Linked DNA regions of Homo sapiens: region 2 is linked to region 1. A link means that fine-mapping ties the variant in region 1 to the expression of a gene that starts in the linked region. Tissue or cell type: whole blood. Region 1 holds a variant in brackets; the other region holds the start of a gene. All regions are shown on one strand. Distances are between the middles of the regions.

Evidence for each region. PIP is the estimated chance that this variant, and not a neighbour inherited with it, causes the effect.
Region 2: RAB18 starts here. The variant in region 1 is fine-mapped to the expression of RAB18 in whole blood (INTERVAL, PIP 0.98).

What each region holds. Positions count from the first base shown.
Region 1 is chr10:27,403,009-27,405,766 of GRCh38, forward strand. PTCHD3 (patched domain containing 3 (gene/pseudogene)) reads right to left here. Exons shown (of 4, transcript NM_001034842.5): 3 at 204-349. Among named protein-coding and RNA genes, the nearest start is that of PTCHD3, 10 kb to the right of the region's middle. The variant T/TTTC (reference allele first, on the strand shown) is at 1,478.
Region 2 is chr10:27,502,905-27,505,511 of GRCh38, forward strand. RAB18 (RAB18, member RAS oncogene family) reads left to right here and starts at 1,400. Exons shown (of 7, transcript NM_021252.5): 1 at 1,400-1,533. The coding sequence starts at 1,466. It overlaps LOC124902399 (a long non-coding RNA gene), which reads left to right and starts at 1,541. Exons shown (of 2, transcript XR_007062097.1): 1 at 1,541-1,820; 2 at 2,075-2,188. RefSeq lists enhancers at 1,096-1,365, 1,476-1,535.

The DNA of each region.
Region 1 (2,758 bases):
CTGCTGTTCACGTACATGGTCTGTTTTTCCATTAGGATACTCGATCTTTCCACCTCTAGAGATATCCAGTTCAATTTCATTTCCCTGTTTCCTGGCACCTCATTTTTGAACTGTAGAGCCACCTTAATACAATTCTTTCCCTTATATATATCCCCTACCCCACCACATACACGGTGTGCAGCCTCCCGTTTTGTTTTACTCACCTAGAATAAGAAATGGTGAATTGGCAACTATGATGACAAATGGCACCCCAATGTGCAACAGCAGGCCAAAGCCGCTCACCACTGCCAAGAAAGCAGAAATCACTCCAAAGGCCGCAACACACATTTTGTTTCGTATGCAGTCAAACCTGTAAATTTGGAGGGAAAAATCATGGAATTTGTGGTGGTAGCTTTCATCAATGGATAACATTCTTGACTTGGACACCTAGTCATAAATCTCTAAGACAGTAATTTCCACACATATCTGCTGGAGACCTTTAATTCCCAGGGACTATCTCAGAACAACTGAAAAAAAAAAAAGGAAAGAAAGGGAGCAGAAAAGTTAGAAATCTGTAAATCTGTACTTCTACCGACTCTGCTATATGTGATTCTTTGCAGCCAGCCAAGCACTAAGTCACTGACTAGCATTTTGGAACCACAAAGAATTACTAAAACACTGCTAATGGCTAATTCCACTCTGATCTTCAGAAGGGTGTGAATGGAATATAACAGATAATGAAGAGCAAGCTGTACTAGAGAAAGAACATAGATCCAATTATCTTTTTATCCATCCCTGGTCTCTAACTAGCCATAACACAACATTAAATGCCTCCTGTATTTCAAAGTTAGTACAATGTGTATTGTTGTTAACATAAAGTAGGAAAGTCTTTTAAGTTACTTTCAGGATTCTTCTCTACTGGTGAAGTGGGCTCTGTGGAAAAGTTGCTACGAATTTGGAAAAAATTAAAATGTGCTATATTTTAAATGACCCAAACTGTGCCTGTTTCCTTGGCAAACCAACAGAAACAGGACTATATACAAAATATTTTAAAGCATGATTCAGTGCTTTACCTCCTCAGCAACCATAACATTACCTTTTAAAAGATTGGCAACAACCTCTGGTTTTAGATTTTGCTTGTTAGAAATTGCTTCAAAACAAATGACTGATACCTGCATTCAGATATTTTAGTAGGGGAGAGAAACTAAGTTTGGAATTTTAGTCTAGGAGCTGAAGAACTGGAGCCACTGGTTTCAAAACAGCAGGAACATGACTGAAGACCTGCAGGGGAGATCACATTTAAATAGATAAAATTCTTCTTCTTAATAAAATGTCTATACTGTTATTGTATTTCACTTTTTCTTAACCTGGTACTATGAATTAAGGTCGGGGCCCCAACTCAACACACATACACATATAAATTCCAGGGCAAAAGTAAATTGCTTTGTTATAATAAAATCTCTTACTATAATTCTTTCTTTCTTTCTTTCTTTCTTTC[T/TTTC]TTTTTTTTTTTTTTTGAGACAGACTTTTGCTTTTTTTGCCCAGGCTGGAGTCTCACTCTGTCACCCAGCCTGGAGTGCAATGGTGCAATCTTAGCTCACTGCCACCTCTGCCTCCCGGGTTCAAGTGATTCTCCTGCCTCAGCCACCTGAGTAGCTGGAATTACAGGCATGTGCCACCACACCTGGCTAATTTTGTATTTTTAGTAGAGATGGGGTCTCACCATGTTGGCCAGACTGGTCTTGAACTCCGGTGATCCGCCTGCCTCGGCCTCCCAAAGTGCTGGGATTACAGGCATGAGCCACTGTGCCCGGCCTAATATAATACGTTCTTAAAACAACAATATTGGTTTATAGGAGTTTAAGATAAGAAAGTAAAAGAGATGAATTTCAAAATCAGAAAGATTTTGGATAAAAGGATAAAAGGTATATATGACAAGGTTATGCCCATTCCTCCTTTTGAGTTTCTGGATTTCTTAGGTGTGAATTTTTCAGAGGATAGGGGAGTGAAGTATAGTATTGATTATAGAGACTTTGGCTAGATATAAATAAAGTTCAGGACTATCTGTGGTTTCAGGCATCCGTTGTATGTCTTGGATAGTATTCCTGTGGAAAAGCAGGGGATTACTATACATAAAATAGCATGAGCTATAATTGAGTTCAATTTAGAGCACAGACTTTTGAAAAAGTCTTATTTAAATGACTTCATTGCAAGACAATAAATATAGAACCCTGAAATATGTTTCAGTAAGTGTCTTAAATGAGCTAAAGGCAGGTATGCAAGGTATAACCTTCATATATGAGAGTGTGTGAGACAGGCAAAATGGGGATATGTCCTAGAACTGTCTAGGAAGCTCCACCCAGAACGGACATGAGACCCTCTGTGATAAGGAAAGAGAGGGAGCGAGAAGTGTCCAGGGAACTTACAAAAGCACTTGCAGGCAGCCGGGTGCGGTGGCTCACGCCTGTAATCCCAGCACTTTGGAAGACTGAGGTGGGCGGATCACCTGAGGTCGGGAGTTCGAGACCAGCCTGTCCAACATGGTGAAACCCCGCCTCTACTAAAAATACAAAAATAAGCCAGGTGTGGTGGTGCATGCCTGTAATCCCAGCTACTCAGGAGGCTGAGGCAGGAGAATCGCTTGAACCTGGGAGGCAGAGGTTTCAGTGAGCCGAGATTGCGCCATTGCACTCCAGGCTGGGTGACAGAGTGAGACTCCATCTCAAAAAAGAAAAAACACCAAACAAACCAATACTTGCAGAAGGATCAGTTTCATATTCAA
Region 2 (2,607 bases), 100 kb after region 1:
GATCTTTTTGTCATAATGAAAAGTAAGCTAGATAGACTTGACTGAAGTTTCAAGGGCTATCTGATGAGAAGTGGAGGTTGTTTCATTGACATTATTCTCTAAGGTTAGGAATGGACTCTACAACATTCATTCAATTAATTCATTCAGCATACATTTATTTAGCACATATTATGTGCCATGAAGTACTCTAGATACTGAAGACATACCAGTAGACAAAACAAAATATCCTTGCCTTCATGAGACTTCTAATAAAGTAGTAAAATATATAGTGTATCAGAGAGTGGTTAAATCCTATGCAGAAAAACAATGTAAAGAGGTCTAGAGAATGCTGGAGGGATTTGCATATTTCAGTAGAATGGACAGGGAAGGCCTCTTTAAGAATGCAACATTTGAGCGAAGACCTGAAGGAGGAGAAGCCATTGGGATATCTTTTGAAAGGGCTTTTCCAGCTATTTAACAAATTAATTTCTTAACATTTGAAATTTTATTTATATGTAGTCTTTAATCAAATATCCATTGTATATGACATTAGCTGCAGGTATAAGGAAATAAGACAAGAGAACTGAGGTTTATTGAGTGCCTGCCATGTACCAGGCACTGTGCTAAGTATTATGAATGAGGTTTGGTACCTTCACTAAGATTTACAACTTAATGCAGGAGGCAAGGTGTAGACATACACTTCCTGCAGTATGGGTGTAGCAGTTCTTATGAGGAAGGAGAGTTGACTTGAAGTTGCACCGCCAGAAGTAATGCACCTGACCTACCTGAAGTCTACGCCTCCCTTTCAAGATGAATTAGGGTGCAGAGGGTGCTCTCCACTATAACAGAGGGGAAGCCAGCAAGATAATACCTGATCACACCTTTTATAGAGCACTTTGGTTAACAACATGTCTTCACAAATTAACTCACTTAACCTTCATAACAATAAGAAGCAGATGTTCTAAGAAGTGTTACTGTGTCTCTCAGAGATGGAGAAAGGCTAAGAAAGCTGGGTAGTATGACAAGGCAGTTATAAGGTAGAGCTGGACCTAAATTTAAGATAATCTGCTTCAAGCACAGTGCTTTTCCCACCGCAGTGCAGCTGTTATGAGCAGCTGCCGAAATAAAACAGCTTGATATTCTCCTGACTGAGTCCTCCCACTGACTCAAAAGGAGGGTTAGGTTGAGGCTGGGGCGGAGCTAGACCTCAAGAAGAAGCCAACAAAGTCACACACAGCGCTCCCCACCTGCGCTTGCGCAGGGGAGGAACACGCAGTCCGGAAAAACGCCGGGGATTCTGGGTCGCGCAGCCGTGGAGCTACCTCAAGGCGGAACTGGGGAGTCCAGGGCTTCGGCAGCCTGAACACCCGGTGTGAAAGGAAGGTGGCAGACGTGGAGCGGCGCGCATGCGCAGCAGCTCACTCTGCTGAAGGGCTGAGAGGCGCACCCGGGCGGCCAGCTGGGCTCGGAGCGGAACGGGGTCAGGATGGACGAGGACGTGCTAACCACCCTGAAGATCCTCATCATCGGCGAGAGTGGGGTGGGCAAGTCCAGGTGAGGCGGAGGTGCGGGTCGTGACGAGGGTGGCTGGGCTCTTTCTGCCCCGGTGGCTGCTGTCTCCTGGGCCGCGACGGGAACTGTAAACTGCAGCGGCGGGCTCGGGCCGGCTCCGCTCGCGCCCTCCTCGGCCTCTGGGCCGCGCTCTCCCGCGACGTTTGCTTTCCTCTCCCCACCCGCGCCTGCCTGGTTCCCGGCCTTTGCCAGGCCCAAGTTCTCTGGGTCGCTCTCCCTCCTGTAGCGCCGAGAAAACACCATTCCGAGGGCCGCCGCTCGGCCGGCAGGTTTGCTGCGCGGAGCTCAGGGCGTGGCGGGCTGGTTTGGGCCCGAATCCGGCCGGGGGCGCCTTGCCTCGAACCTCTCGGGGTTCAGGCTGCCTGCCACCCCGAGACCCGGGAGACATAGCTTTCCCACTTGAGGGTTTCTGTGGGGCCTTCTCTAAATACATAATGTCCTCGGGAAGTTTCGTGACGCCTTAGGTCCCATTCCTGGCCTGTTTGGGCGCAGCTTAATGTCGATTCTTTTACTTTTTTATTAGTCGGCTGTGAAAGAACTGGATCTTGTGACTGCTGGAAAATTTCGCTTTAGTGTAAGGTCCGAGTGCTTCAGCCGTGGGCCACCTTTGAAAATAAAATGTAATTGTTATTTCTCATTTTGCCACATCCTGTGGAGACAGAAGATTAGTGTTGTGCTTTCATTTTTTACTTTTTCCTTGGGGAAAATAATATTGACAGTGGAGTTGAGTATAAGGTAAGACATGGATCTAGGTGGATGTTGCTAGAGGGCTGTGATTTCATCCAGGTCTTGGAAGAGAGTTCTCCAGCTGATGTCATTCTTGCCATCTGATTATGAGTAGGTTATGTTCAAGGCCGTCCTGATCCTTAAACCACATTTGCACTCCAGGGGCTGTAATCAGTTTCATATTTTAGCTATACCTTCTGATACACGTATCTTTCAAATAATTTTTTGTATTTCATAAATTGAAATAGCCTTAATTCTACAAACTAGAATGAAAGCTCTCCTCAAATAACTTGTAAAAGTCACTTCATAAAGTCTTACTTTTTAAAAGCT